Linked DNA regions of Homo sapiens. The protein of the gene in region 1 purifies or fractionates together with the protein of each later gene. This does not show direct contact. Each region holds a gene or a part of one and is shown on either strand. Other genes may lie near its edges.

Region 1 (3,500 bases):
AAATGAACATTTTAAAAACATGGCCATCAGGTTTCTTCATGAAGGCAGTGTGATGTGGTAGGAATAGCCCTGGTCTAAGCCAGGAGCCCTGGGGCTGGTCCTCACAGGATAGTCCTGCCTTTTTCTCTTTCTGCTGGGGACTTGGGGTATCTCTGAGCCTCCTTGGTGGTGGATGGGGATCTCGTGTTTTAACCTCTCCTGTCAGTCTTTAACCTGTATTCCTTTGGGTCCCTGGACATCATGTTTTATTCCTCTGGGTAATTACTGTTCTTCATGGTTTCATTTTAGATTTGTGGGCAGATTCAAGTCTCGCAAAGAGCGGGAAGCTGAGCTTGGAGCCAAAGCCAAGGAATTCACCAATGTTTATATCAAAAACTTTGGGGAAGAGGTGGATGATGAGAGTCTGAAAGAGCTATTCAGTCAGTTTGGTAAGTTGGGGTTCCTTGTCTCCTTTCACAGTCTACCAGACCCATCTGTTTTTTCTTAAGAGATGAGGGCACTGCTCCAGAGATTTGCTTCAAGTGAGTTTCCAGAGGGAAGCCTTCTGTTCCTGAGCTGTGCTCAAGATGGTGTTACTAATAGTTCTGTCCTTTGGTAATAGGTAAGACCCTAAGTGTCAAGGTGATGAGAGATCCCAATGGGAAATCCAAAGGCTTTGGCTTTGTGAGTTACGAAAAACACGAGGATGCCAATAAGGTGAGTATACCACAAAGATTGGGAAAAGCTTTTAAGAGGTTGCCCCAGAGTATGGGTAGGGTCTTGCTAGCACCTACCTAGAGCTGGGACGGTCTGAGTATCTGGTAGTAGATGTACCATTACTATACTCTGGGATCATCTTCCTGGGTTCCGCATGTTAACTTCATGTAGGTGTTTACAAAGCACTTGGCACATACCTGTCACCTCAGCTATCAGTTGTTGAAAGAATAGGACAGACGTTTGTTATGCTGCAAAGGTGAGAGAACTAAAGCCCAGTGAGTGCTGATTTGATAACAGCACGGCAGCTACTTGTGGGCAAAGCATTGTGCCAGACCCTCAATATTTATCACTTAAATACCCACAAAAGCACCTGCAGAATTTACTGGCAGCCGGAATATTATATCGCCCTAGGCTCATGTCAGCACACTTGTGTTTATACACCTGTACTATTTCTATATTATCTGGATCAATAACCCATTTAAATATTAACCTCACTTTACAGATGAGGAAGTTTGGATTTGTGTGACAGACTTCAGAGGTGGAGTGAATTTAGTTTTTAGTCCTATAGTAGAAAGAATATTTTTTGGGACTTAGACCTCCAGAATAAGACCCCATCGCTGCAACTTTATTTTAAAGACATATTTTTCCTCTCTAGGCTGTGGAAGAGATGAATGGAAAAGAAATAAGTGGTAAAATCATATTTGTAGGCCGTGCACAAAAGAAAGTAGAACGGCAGGCAGAGTTAAAACGGAAATTTGAACAGTTGAAACAGGAGAGAATTAGTCGATATCAGGTAAGGTGGTCTTGGCCCAGCCTAGCAATGGGATTTGCTGTGAAATATTTGCAGAACACCCCTATGTTTAGCGGGCTTTCTTTTTGAGGACTTGGAGTGTGTTCTTCTTCCCATTTTACCTAAAAAGATGAGGTTTAAAAGGATATATACCTACTACATATGACTGATTATTATAGAACCAGAAACAAGAGATGGGTTTATTCATCAAGAAGCTCTCTATTTTGGAAGCCTCAGCCTGTTGCTTTTAGCCATGTAGGTTCCTTTTACTTAAATGAGACTCCTTTGTTTGGCATGGCTTCAAGAAGACCCCTGCTGGGGTGGGTGAGTGGTCACCAGAACAGCTGTGGGGAGAGGTGACAAAAGGTGAGTGCACTGATGATCCTGTCAGTTTCAGGGCAGTAGTTTCACAACTTTGGACTTGCATCAGATTCATCAGCAGAGCTTGTTAAAACAGATAGCTGGGCTCCAGCCCCAGAGTTTTTCTTATTCATTGGGTTTGGGGTCTGGCCTAAGAATTTCATTTCTTTCTTTTTTTTTTTTTTTTCTTGAGACAGTCTCGCTCTGTCGCCCAGGTTGGAGTGCAGTGGCACAATCTCGGCTCACTGCAAACTCCGCCTCCCGGGTTCGCACCATTCTCCTGCCTTAGCCTCCTGAGTAGCTGGGACTACAGGCACCCGCCACCATGCCTGGCTAATTTTTTGTATTTTTAGTAGAGACGGGGTTTCACTGTGTTAGCCAGGATGGTCTCGATCTCCTGACCTTGTGATTCGCCCGCCTCGGCCTCCCAAAGTGCTGGGATTACAGGCGTGAGCCACCGCGTCCGGCCGAGAATTTCATTTCTAACAAGTTCCCAAAGATGCTGGTGCTCCTGGTCTGGGGCCACCCTTGGGGAACCACTTTCTTAGGGAATATTTGTGATATAGAAGTGTAGTTAACAGTGATCTTTTTCCTTCAGGGGGTGAATCTCTACATTAAGAACTTGGATGACACTATTGATGATGAGAAATTAAGGAAAGAATTTTCTCCTTTTGGATCAATTACCAGTGCTAAGGTATTATACTGCGATCTGGGGATTGAAAGCAGTGGTATTCCATTATAGGCTTATTGGCATTTGTCCCATTGAAGGAATAGCATTTAAATTATGTTCATTTCTGAAAGTAGCTACTACGTTTTTCTAGCAAAATTTCTGGATGCATTCTGGAGAATGACATTTCATTAGGTTAACATTACACTGTTTCCCAAGCACTGGAGTCTGGAGAGGAATTTGACCCAGCCCCTCCTTGCCAACTCAGAGCACCTGAATCTTTCCCATTCCTTGCTGCCTCGTGCCGGTGTGGGGACAGATGGTGCTACAGAATGAGCAGAGGAAATCCAGACAGGTTGTTTTCCATTTGTCTTGGGGCCTGTCTCTACAGCTCTGCCACATTTTCTCCTTGAGAATGAAGGTATTTTGAAGATTTTGGAGGTGGGCTTGGGAACTTCTACCCTGGTCTTAAAAAGAGAGGAAAGGGGAGTGGAAGGTTTTTCTATGTTTCGTAGTGTGCATCATTTGCTTGATTTTCTTTGATAATCATATCAACTAAGTTAGCAGGGTAAGTAGGAACCTCATTTTAAAGATAAGGAATTTTAGTCCTTGAACAAGAGAATGCTGACTACATGGGGATGGTGTACTGCTTGTCCTTGGCACTTTGGGAGCAGGATGGAAACTGGTGCCATCTGAACATTTTGAGTTATGGCCGGATGCAGACGCCGGTCTTGCTAAACAGGTGTACCAGATGCCACAAAATCCTTTAGTTGATGAGAAGGGAAGCCACGTGGGCTGGTAAGGGCTTAGTGGCCCTGCCCTGGCTCTTAGTGGACTTTGCTCCCAACCTGGGAATGTGGAAAGCAATGTTATCAGTTGTAGTAGGGAGTTGGCCAGAGGCCAACTGTGGGTTTGCCCAGTTCTTACCCTTTCGTTTTTGCTATGACCCCCCCCTTGACTGGCCCTCATCAGTGTAAGGAGTGATCT
Region 2 (3,500 bases), on another chromosome or scaffold:
CCATCCTGATGCTGCTGCTTTTTAAAGATATGAGTAAAATGCTTGAGTTCTGTTGCTAGGTCTATCTGCAAAGACTCCCAAGTAGGAACCACTGGAGTTTTAACTTGGAGCCTAGTAACTATTTGCTATAGTGACTCTTTTCGAAATTTTTAAAAAATTACTTGAGATCACCCTAGCTACTCAGAATACTGAAAAGAGCCCACTGTTACCTGAGAATATGGAGATGTCCCTAGGCATTTTCTGATTCTATATTATTTTAAATGCTATGGACCTTGAGTTAATTCCAGTTGACAATAACAGTTACAAAGAAAATGACTATCCCATGTTTCCTATCTGTCAGCCAGACCTCAATTCATGAAAAAACACTACAGTGCCACAATTCTTAAAAAGCTATCAGCATATTAAAAGGTAAATAGATTATATCCACCAACACTCATCTTTACCACTTCAGAAATATCACCATGCTTTTTTGTGTTTATCCCCTCTAAACAACAAGAGTAAAAACTGTGTTGTCTTCCCCACAAAAGCCTATATTATTTAAGTAATAGTGATTGTCCTTTTAAAAAAATATAAATTTTTTCATAAGTCCTTTCTGAAGTGGAAGCAGGAGCATAAAATAAAACTAGAGATTCTGCAAGCTTGCTATTTAATAAAGAATTGCAAAATATTTCAAATTAATATTGGGTTCATTTTCTCAAACTTCTTATAAATATTATATTATTACATTCTTATTGACCTTATTGAAAAGAACAATAACAATGAAGTTTTATGGGACTCTTTTAGTAACTAGTTTGAAAGATCCCTAACTCGGTGTCATATCTAATATAAAATGGTAACTCCCAAAATAACAGGATAATATTAAGTCTGTTTCTCAGGCAGCATCCATTAAACCAACTTGAATTTCCATCTATAATCCTACACTGTTTAGTATTAATCATTAGATACTATATTACTGAATCATAGTCAAGAATATTGTACAAAAAGGCAACTGATACAGATCAAAAGAACAAGAGGATAAAGTGAGGAATATTTTACCAATGTACCTTTAATTCTTCAAGCTTCTCTCTTATTTCAATAAATCCCAGGTGCAGTTTACCCCCAAAATGATCAGCCAGTCGTCTGTCATTATCATGAAGTCCTAAATAGGCAGAGCAGACTTCACAGACTCGAAGTTTCTGCTGCTGAAAACTGGAAGCTGGCATAGAATTCCGATAAACTTCCTAAACAAAAGTGAGAAAAACAATGACCATATAAATCTCACTAAAAGTCATACAATTAAATAAAATATACTATGCTTATACCAAAAGTGTTTTCTAAAAAATACACAAAAGTGGCTGGGCACGGTGGCTCACTGGGGCGAGACTCCAGCTCAAAAAAAAAAAAAAAAAAAAACCACAAAAGCATGGCTATTTTGTTATGAAAATTATAGGTTCCCTTTATCCCCATCCTCTATCCTTAGCGCCTCTCTCCACTGGAGTATAAGGAAATAATAAACATGAACAGAAATCAATGAAATAGAAAACAAGAAAAAAACAATAAAATCAGAAGACTGGTTCTTTGAAAAACAAAATAAAACTGACCAGCTAGATTAATTAAGAAAAGACACGAATTGCAAACATTCTACAGATATTAAAAGAGAACACTATGAACAACTTTATATCAATAAATACAACTTAGAGAGATTTTCTGAAAGACAAATTTACCAAAAGTATTTTAAAAAACAACAACAACAAAAAAACAGGCCAGGCCGGGTGGCTCACGCCTGTAATCCCAGCACTTTGGGAGGCTGAGGTGGACAGATCACCCCAGGTCAGGAGTTCAAGACCAGCCTGGCCAACATGGTGAAAGCCTATCTCTACTAAAAATACAAAAAATTAGCCGGGCATGGTGGTGCACACCTGTAGTCCCAGCTACTCAGCAGGCTGAGGCAAGAGAATCGCCTGAACCCAGGAAGCAGAGGTTTCAGTGAGCTGAGATCGCACCACTACACTCCAGCCTTGGAGAGAGAGTAAGACTCTGTCTTAAAAAAAAAAAAAAAAAAGGCCCTGGTGCAGTGGTTCATGCCTGTAATCCTAGCACTTTGGGAGGCCGAGGCAGGTGGATCACCTGAGGTTGGGTGTTCAAGACCAGCCTGACCAACATGGAGAAACCCTGTCTCTACTAAAAATATAAATATTAGCCAGGTGTGGTGGCATGGGCCTGTAATCCCAGCTACTTGGGAGGCTGAGGCAGGAGAATCGCTTGAACCCGGGAGGCAGAGGTTGCGGTGAGCTGAGATCATGCCATTGCACTCCTGCCTGAGCAAGAAGAGCAAAACTCCATCTCAAAAAAACAAAAAGAAGAAGGCTGGACTTGAACTGGACTCAAGCGATCCACCTTAGCCTGCAAAATAGCTGGGACCAAAGGCACGCACCACCACAACCAGCTTTTTCCGAGTTTTGTTTTGTTTTTGTCTTTTAGTTCAACTTCTCTTTAACAACTGTTCAATAATTTCCATTCAAATACATGTTCTTAGAGAAGTATAGATACTGAAGTTTCATCTACTACTTTTTATTTGTAGTCTTACCAAATTAAGCAGAATTCGTCTACTACTATTAAGAATTTACCTCTGCTTCTCTTTTCTTTGCCCGTGCTTTCTCTACTTCATCCATTACTTTCTGGGATTCCTCCACATTCCCTTCAGCTCCTAGTTGTTCCACCTTGGCTAACAATTTACCAATTTCTTCATTTAACTCATGAACACGTTCTGCCTAAAAAGAAATAAAAAAGAAGATCATGAATAAACAAGAGAATGAATTTTAAATTTCAAAGTATTTCAGAACTGCTGAGAAAAAACTTGTTATCTAAGGCAGTATGTGGTTAAAGAATGCTTTCTGAGCGTATCCCAAATGAACTACTGAGACATCAGGATGTTCTGAGCCTGCCTGCCTTACCTCAATGAAGTCAGGGCTACTACTGGGCCCAATATAACTTTCTATCCTCTGGCGAGGTGGTGTATTCCTAGTGTAAAATACGATTTCTTCCATGATCTGGCCCTTTGTACTTTTCTAAACCATCTCTTGCTACTCCCCCACCTCACAACATAATTTATAGTTTCCCCAAACTTACCCTGTTGTTTTCTACCTCTGTTACTTTGCATATACTCTTCTTTCTGGGATGGGATCCCTTACCTCTCGCCTGCCTACTGAATATTCACTCGTTCCAACAAGATACAACTCAAGGGCCATTTCTGTAAAACATTCCTGAACAGTCACCACATCCCAGCCCCACTTAAACACATCAGCAAAGATGGCCATACTCTCTCCTTTGTGTCACCTTTGTATCTTTTTTGACAGTTCCTTTCATAAATATCATACTACTTTAAGGACAGCTATCTGTATTTCCCATCTTTGTATCTCTAGTGCTCAGCAAATAGCCTAGGCTCAAATATGAGTTAAAGAAATGAATTGGTGGATCAAGTTCAGGAATCCATCAGATCTGACTTATTGCTAAACCAATTA
Region 3 (3,500 bases), on another chromosome or scaffold:
ATTACAGGCGCCCGCCACCATGCCTGGCTAATTTTCTGTATCTTTAGTGGACACGGGGTCTCACCAGGTTGGCCAGGCTGGTCTTGAAGTCCTGACCTCAGGTAATCCACCCACCTCGGCCTCCCAAAGTGCTGGGATTACAGGTGTGAGCCACTGAGCCAGCCCAAGTGGCTTTTTTTTTTTTTTTTTTTTTGAGATGGAGTCTAGCTTTGTCACCCAGGCTGGAGTGCAGTGGTGCGGTCTCAGCTCACTGTAACCTCCACCTCCCAGGTTCAAGTGATTCGCCTGCCTCAGCCTCCCGAGTAGCTGGGACTACAGGTGCGTGTCACCATGCCCGGCTAATTTTTGTATTTTTAGTAGAGACAGGGTTTCACCATGTTGGCCAGGATGGTCTCGATCTCTTGACCTCGTGATCCGCCCACCTCGGCCTCCCAAAGTACTGGGATTACAGGTGTGAGCCACCGCACCCGGCCCAGAGTGGGTATTTTAAAAAGATGGCCATCCTCATAATCTGATTAAACATTTGCTAATAAGGTATTATGGATAGTTTTATCAGAGTGATTAATGTACTTACTAGAAATTAAGAGTAAATGCTAAAAACATTTTACATTTTCAGAAATGTAAATACTTTCATATTCAAAACTGCTGGCAGTGTGGTGGCTCACACCTGTAATCCCAGCCTCCCTTTAGGAGGCTGAGGCGGGTAGATCACTTGAGGTCAGGAGTTCAAGACCAACCTGGCCAACATGGTGAAACTCCAACTCTACTAAAAAATACAAAAATTAGCTGGGCATGGTGGAGCATGCCTGTAATTCCAGCTACTTGGGAGGCTGAGGTGCACCAGAATCGCTTGAACCTGGGAGGCAGAGGTTGCAGTGGGCCGTGATTGTGCCACTGTACTCCAGCCTGGGCAACAGAGCAAGACTCTCAAAAAACAAAAACAACAAAAATCCCCCCTACAAAACTGTCAAAAAAGGCCAGGCACAGTGGCACAGTGGCTTGCGCCTATAATCCTAACACTTTGGGAAGCCAAGGCAGGAGGACTGCTGGAGTTCAGGAGTTCTGGACCAGCCTAGGCAACAAAGCAAGACCTTGTTTCTACCAAAAATTTAAAACATTAGGCAGGCGTGGTGGCATGTGCCTACAGTTCCAGCTACTCAGGAGCCCAGGAGAACCAGGCTGCAGTGAGCTATGATTGCACCACTGCACTCCAGCCTGGATGACAGTGAGACCTTGTCTCAAAAAGAAAAACAAATTGCTGAAAAACATTCTTTTTTGCTTTCATTATTTTAGGACTCTGAATTTAAGTACTGCTAATCTACCACATTACCCGGGAAGCTGCATTCAAGAACAACATTTACAGATTCTCGAATGAGACTACAACCTCCCACAAGAGATATTATTTACTGTCATTTATGCTAGTGGGTATTTTACCCTTTATTGCTATTATATATGGTGTGACATCAAATTTCCCCCAGGAAAGAAGATTTTGATTTCCCTCATTTAAAGGTTCCTCTTAGCTGTTCTGTCAGGGACGTACATGCTTGTTAAGGTTTCTCATCTTCTACAGGCTCGCTGTGGTATTCTGCCACATACAGGCTCTTATCAATGTTGCTCGGAATAGGTTTAATTTCTGTTCCCAGCTGCTCCTCAATACTTTTCAGGTTGAAGCGATCATCATATGTGATCAAGTTGATGGCTAAGCCAAGATGACCAAAGCGACCTAAAAAACATGCGTTTAAAAATTTTAATGAATAAAATATGAAAATCAATGTGAATTGTGCAAGTCAAGCAGTGGCAAAACCACACAGGATTGATAATGATGTTCAGTGCCATTCTTAGTATGCAAAACAACTTCTTAATGGTCTTCAAACACAGGTTTCCCTACAACTTCAGGTTTCGCAGCCCAAAATAGTACTTCATTTCACCTTTCTCAAATGACAAAATGGCAGTCAAAACTGCCATAAAATACACATTAAACAACAGTCACAGAACATACCACCTAATGAGTGAAGTTCTCATGTGTTAATTTCATCTCAAATTAAGCAGTTATTTTAACTTTTCTTAATAAATGCTACAGAAGAATTAGAAATTAGTCTTAAATACCAAACAACTGAATTACTGTTAATTCACTGTTCTCATAGCTACTGTACTCTATTTCACAAAAGAACAAAATTTAGTCATTACACGCCTCAAAAAAGAACTTCTACCAAGAATATCACCTCTTTTTTCCTCACCTGATCTTCCAATACGATGGAGATAGGTCTCTGCCAGCTTTGGGAAATCAAAGTTTATTACCACATTCACAGCTTGTATATCAATACCTCGGGTAAACAGATCTTAAAAAAAAAAAGATAATTTTCATTTTTTCAATTTAGAAATGTCTCTCAGTACAATACTAACACATATTTCTAGCATAACCTAAGTTTATTAATTTAATTCAGTTATTCAAATGCATTTGCACATTACTGGCATTACCTTTCATAATCACATTATCATAAATAACTTTCTGCTCCCAAGTTACTTTTTTCCAGTAATTGTAAGCAAGTTTTAAAAAATGTGTCTAAAAGAGGCTGGGTGCACTCAAGCCTGTAATCCCAGCACTTTGGGAGACCAAAGCAGGAAGATCACCTGAGGTCAGGAGTTCGAGACCAGCCTGGCCAACATGGTGAAATCCCTGTCTCTACCAAAAATACAAAAATTAGCCGGGCTAAGCGGTAGCAGGCGCCCACAATCCCAGCTACTTGGGAGGCTGAGGCAGGAGAATCACTTGAACCCAGGAGGTGGAGGTTTCAGAGAGCCAAGATCGCACCACTGCACTCCAGCCTGGGTGACAAAGATTCCATCCCCCTCCCCCCCCCCCCCAAAAAAAAGACAGAGATGAGGTATGAGTGCCAGAGTAAGTCTTCTAAAGTTTCAGATATGGAACCCAGTATCAGGAGCTGACAAGAGTTCATTTTCAACTTCAGAAATCCTAGAAGTAGTGGTAGGGTGTGTCGGACTATGTCACAGGTTGCACTATGTAATATGAACAGAGAAAGCAAAAAACAACTTGGGAGAAAAACACTGGGTAAAGGAAATACAAAAATACTTACCAGTGCAAACAAGATTGCGGCATAAGCCATTTCGGAAATCATGAAATACACGATTTCGATGTTCCTAGGAGAAAGCAATGTATTCCATTTGATTAACACTCATATACAGCCCCAAATTTCCCATAATTATTTCTCCCAGACGATCAGTTCTACCCAAAATCTGTTTATAAGTGATCCATGATATTAAGCTGCTTTCAAAACCAAATGAGTTAAGTTCTTGATATCTTCGTCTACAGAAACTGTTTACTTACGAAATTTCATAATGTAGTTAACAAAAAAGTCATTTTTGTTACAGTTTTAAATTATTTTTTGCTAAATCAAATTCTGAAATTTAGATATTGTATCTTTTTCTAAAGGCAAACAGTAAAGAAAAAAAGAAAAATCAGCCAGCTGAGGGGCCATATT
Region 4 (3,500 bases), on another chromosome or scaffold:
CTTTGATATGCTGCGATCTCTGGGCAGCATCCATTGGATGCAGGACCTGCAGCCCACACATGTCACAAGAATCTCCGTGGAGATACACACAGTTCTCCCCGTATCGGCACTCTCCCACTGCAGCATAGGGGCACAGCTGCTTCTTTGTCTCCACGGCGGTTTGCTCTTTCTCTGATTCTTCCTTGGTCACTGAGCCCTGCAGGGGTGCTTCAGTGCAGGAAGGCGCAGCTGAAAATGTGTAAGAGGGTGGTAAAGGTCCAAATAGATAAGGCATGAACTATAAGAGAACTGAGAATCTAACCGCAAAAAATGAAAATAAAACTGCAATGAAATACCAAAACAGTCTACTGAACTAACTTCTTCACTTGAAAGAAAGGAATTTTTTCTACCGCTGTTATTTCCAAGATTAGACTTGTAAAAAAAAAAAATTGCTTCTTTATCTATGTCTTGGGTAACTGAAATTTAATTTCAAAAAGTACTCGAAAGGATTCAGTTTTTCAAAACATTCTGAATTCATTTCACTGGGATTAAAAATTTCCTTCACTCTATCTGTAAATCTTAGGTAATCCAAATTAAAGTACTGTACTAAGATTAAACTAAAAAAGGAATAGAAGCAGAAAGGGGAAAGTTGTCAAAACTAAGCAAATGGATGAACTGCTATCCAGCCCTCTAACTCTTATTTTCTTCTTCAGAATACTTACTACGGCCACAGTAGGGTTGCCCAGGAACAAACTCAATAGCATTCACCCAGTCCTCTGAACCTGCTCCTACAGTTGCAAAGTTTGAATTTCTTGACTCAGCTTCGCCTGTATTCATTTCAACAAGTGGTCCAACTATCGATGAGAGACTTGAGGAAGCAGCAAGGGATGACTTTGTAGTTAGCTCTGTAGCAGTTGCTTCTTCCTGTTTCAATGGTTTGCTATGTTCATATCTAAGAAAAAATTCAAAAGTAAGCAGTCGGCCAGTCGTGGTGGCTCAAGCCTGTAATCCCAACAGTTTGGGAAGCTGAGGTGGGTGGATCACCAGAGAGGTTGGGAGTTCGAGACCAGCCTGGCCAATGTGGTGAAAACCCGTCACTACCAAAAACGCAAAAATTAGCTGGGCATGGTGGCGCACCTGTAATCCCAACTACTCGGGAGGCTGAGGTAGGAGAATCACTTGAACCCAGGAGACAGAGGTTGTGGTGAGCCGAGATCATGCCACTGTACTCCAGCCTGGGCGACAGAGTGAGACTCCGTCTCAAAAAAAAAAAAAAAAAAAAAGTAAGCACTCACTGCCTAACTTCATATATACCTTTTTCTTTTCTTTTTTTTTTTTTTTTTGAGATGGAGTCTTGCTCTGTCATCCAGGCTGGAGTGCAGTGGCGTGATCTCAGCTCACTGCAAACTCTGCCTCCTGGGTTCATGGGATTCTCCTGCCTCAGCCTCCCAAGTAGCTGGGATTACAGGCGCCAGCCACCAAGGCTGGCTAAGTTTTGTATCTTTAGTGGAGATGCCGTTTGGCCAGGCTGATCTCGAACTCCTGACCTCAGATGATCCACCCACCTCAGCCTCCCAAAGTGCTGGGGTTACAGGTGTGAGCCACCACGTACGGCCATATATTCCTAATACATTCCTTGGATTCTCTTTGAGCATCAATGTGCCTGTATTTGTGAGTGCAGAGAGAAGCCTATGATTCTGCATATTTAGTTATACCATGTGTGATGCCAAGACTGCTGGTCCAGAGACCATACTTTTGAGTAGGAAGGCAATAGACTGGGGGTCACCAAAGTTTAAAGCATCAAATACACAAATATTTTAGGCTTTGTAGGTCATACAATCAACATCACAACTACAAGTATTCAACTCTGAAACTGCAGTGCAAAAGCAGGTGTAGGCACTATTTAAAGGAATGTGTAACTGTTCCGATCAAACTTGATTTATGAAAACGGCCTTTGGCCAGATTTGGCCTGTAGGCCCATACCCCTGGCTATATACCACTTATTACTTCAAATTCCACTCTAATTAGGAGTTTCAGATAGTTGACAGTCTATAGTTCCCATGGTAACTCTGCCAGAAACCCTGCAGGCAAAACTGACTGATTTCAAAGCAAGGCTGACACAAGGTCAATAAGCAGACATGTGGAACATTTTACCAACACATCAAATAAAATGCTGTCACTATTAAAAGGTAGAGACAATATTTATACAATACACAATATGTACATTCTTTTTCTAAGAAAATCCATCCATTCACCATTTCCCCTTCCAAATTTTGCCCCTATGCATTCTCTCCTTTTCATCTGTAAACATTAAACCACCACCATCTCCAAATACGTGGGGAAAATACATCTATTTCCTTCAAGAACCTTCTTTCTGGCCTGGTGCGGTGGCTCACACCTGTCATCCCAACACTTTGGAAGTCCAAGGAGGCCAGATCACTTAAGGCCAGGAGTGTAAGACCAGCCTGGCGAAACCTGGTCTCTACTAAAAATAAAAAATTATCCGGGCATGGTGGCGCACACCTGTAATACCAGCTACTCAGGAGAGGCTGAGGCATAACAGTTGTTTAAACATGGGAGGTGGAGGGTGCAGTGAGCCAAGATCAGGCCACTGCATTCCAGCCTGGGCAACAGAGTGAGACTCTGTTTCAAAAAATAATAAAAAAAAAGCAAAGCATAGCAAGCATCTTTCTGCCTGAGAAAATTCTCACAGTTCCTGCTGGACGTGGTGGCTCAGGCCTGTAATCCCAGCACTTTGGGAGGGTGAGGCGGGTGGATCACCTGAGGTTGGGAGTTCGAGACCAGCCTGACCACCATGGAGAAACCCCGTCTCTACTAAAAATACAAAATTAGCCAGGCATGGTGGCGCATGCTTGTAATCCCAGCTACTTGGGAGGCAGAGGCAGGAGAATCACTTGAACCTGGGAGGCGGAGGTTGCAGTGAGCCTAGATGGTGCCATTGCACTCCAGCCTGGGCAACAAGAGCAAAACTCCATCTCGAAAGAAAAGAAAAGACAATTATCACAATTCTTTTAGCATTTTACACTAAGAAATTGACTGATTTTCAGAGACTCACTCTATCTCCTAGGCTGGAGTGCAGTAGCGTGACCTTAGCTCACTGCAGCCTCGACCTCCTGGGCTCAAGCAATCCGTCTGCCTTAGCCTCCTGAGTAGCTGGGACGACAGGTGTGTGCCACAATGCTGGTCTAACTTTTTTTATTTTTTGTAGAGACAAGGTTTCCCTATGTTGTCCAGGCTGGTCTCCAACTCCTGGGCTCAAGCAAGCCTCCTGCCTTAGCCTCCCAAAGTGATAGGCATGAGCCACCGTGCTCGGCACACCGAGTTTTATTCAGATGCTATGTATTAATTATGCATATAGTAAATTTAACTGTGCTACATAATTTATAGTTTGTTATCAAGTGGTTCTTATAATGAAACATTACTAACTTTGGGTCATCTGTGTTATAGGTGCCTATGTTTATACGCAAAAATAAAGTAAAATCTAACTAAAGGCTCTACTC

The links. The genes of interacting proteins can lie anywhere in the genome.
Region 2: the proteins of PABPC4 (region 1) and LUC7L2 purify together in Homo sapiens (affinity purification with mass spectrometry; 2 studies listed by BioGRID, with this or other methods). This does not show direct contact.
Region 3: the proteins of PABPC4 (region 1) and DDX6 purify together in Homo sapiens (affinity purification with mass spectrometry; 3 studies listed by BioGRID and IntAct, with this or other methods). This does not show direct contact.
Region 4: the proteins of PABPC4 (region 1) and MKRN1 purify together in Homo sapiens (affinity purification with mass spectrometry; 3 studies listed by BioGRID and IntAct, with this or other methods). This does not show direct contact.

What each region holds. Positions count from the first base shown.
Region 1 is NC_000001.11:39,566,791-39,570,290, reverse strand, and holds part of PABPC4 (polyadenylate-binding protein 4), read left to right. Parts: intron 1-288; coding exon 289-428; intron 429-601; coding exon 602-696; intron 697-1,351; coding exon 1,352-1,489; intron 1,490-2,444; coding exon 2,445-2,540; intron 2,541-2,780; exon of another isoform or gene 2,781-2,917; intron 2,918-3,500.
Region 2 is NC_000007.14:139,404,894-139,408,393, reverse strand, and holds part of LUC7L2 (putative RNA-binding protein Luc7-like 2), read right to left. Parts: intron 2,751-3,500; coding exon 2,607-2,750; intron 1,221-2,606; coding exon 1,044-1,220; intron 1-1,043. Other genes in the region: FMC1-LUC7L2 readthrough protein, read right to left, coding at 1,044-1,220, 2,607-2,750. UniProt on the Homo sapiens protein: May bind to RNA via its Arg/Ser-rich domain.
Region 3 is NC_000011.10:118,753,165-118,756,664, forward strand, and holds part of DDX6 (probable ATP-dependent RNA helicase DDX6), read right to left. Parts: intron 3,160-3,500; coding exon 3,096-3,159; intron 2,340-3,095; coding exon 2,238-2,339; intron 1,724-2,237; coding exon 1,548-1,723; 3' UTR 1,541-1,547; intron 1-1,540.
Region 4 is NC_000007.14:140,459,006-140,462,505, forward strand, and holds part of MKRN1 (E3 ubiquitin-protein ligase makorin-1), read right to left. Parts: intron 932-3,500; coding exon 702-931; intron 229-701; coding exon 2-228; intron 1-1. UniProt on the Homo sapiens protein: E3 ubiquitin ligase catalyzing the covalent attachment of ubiquitin moieties onto substrate proteins. These substrates include FILIP1, p53/TP53, CDKN1A and TERT.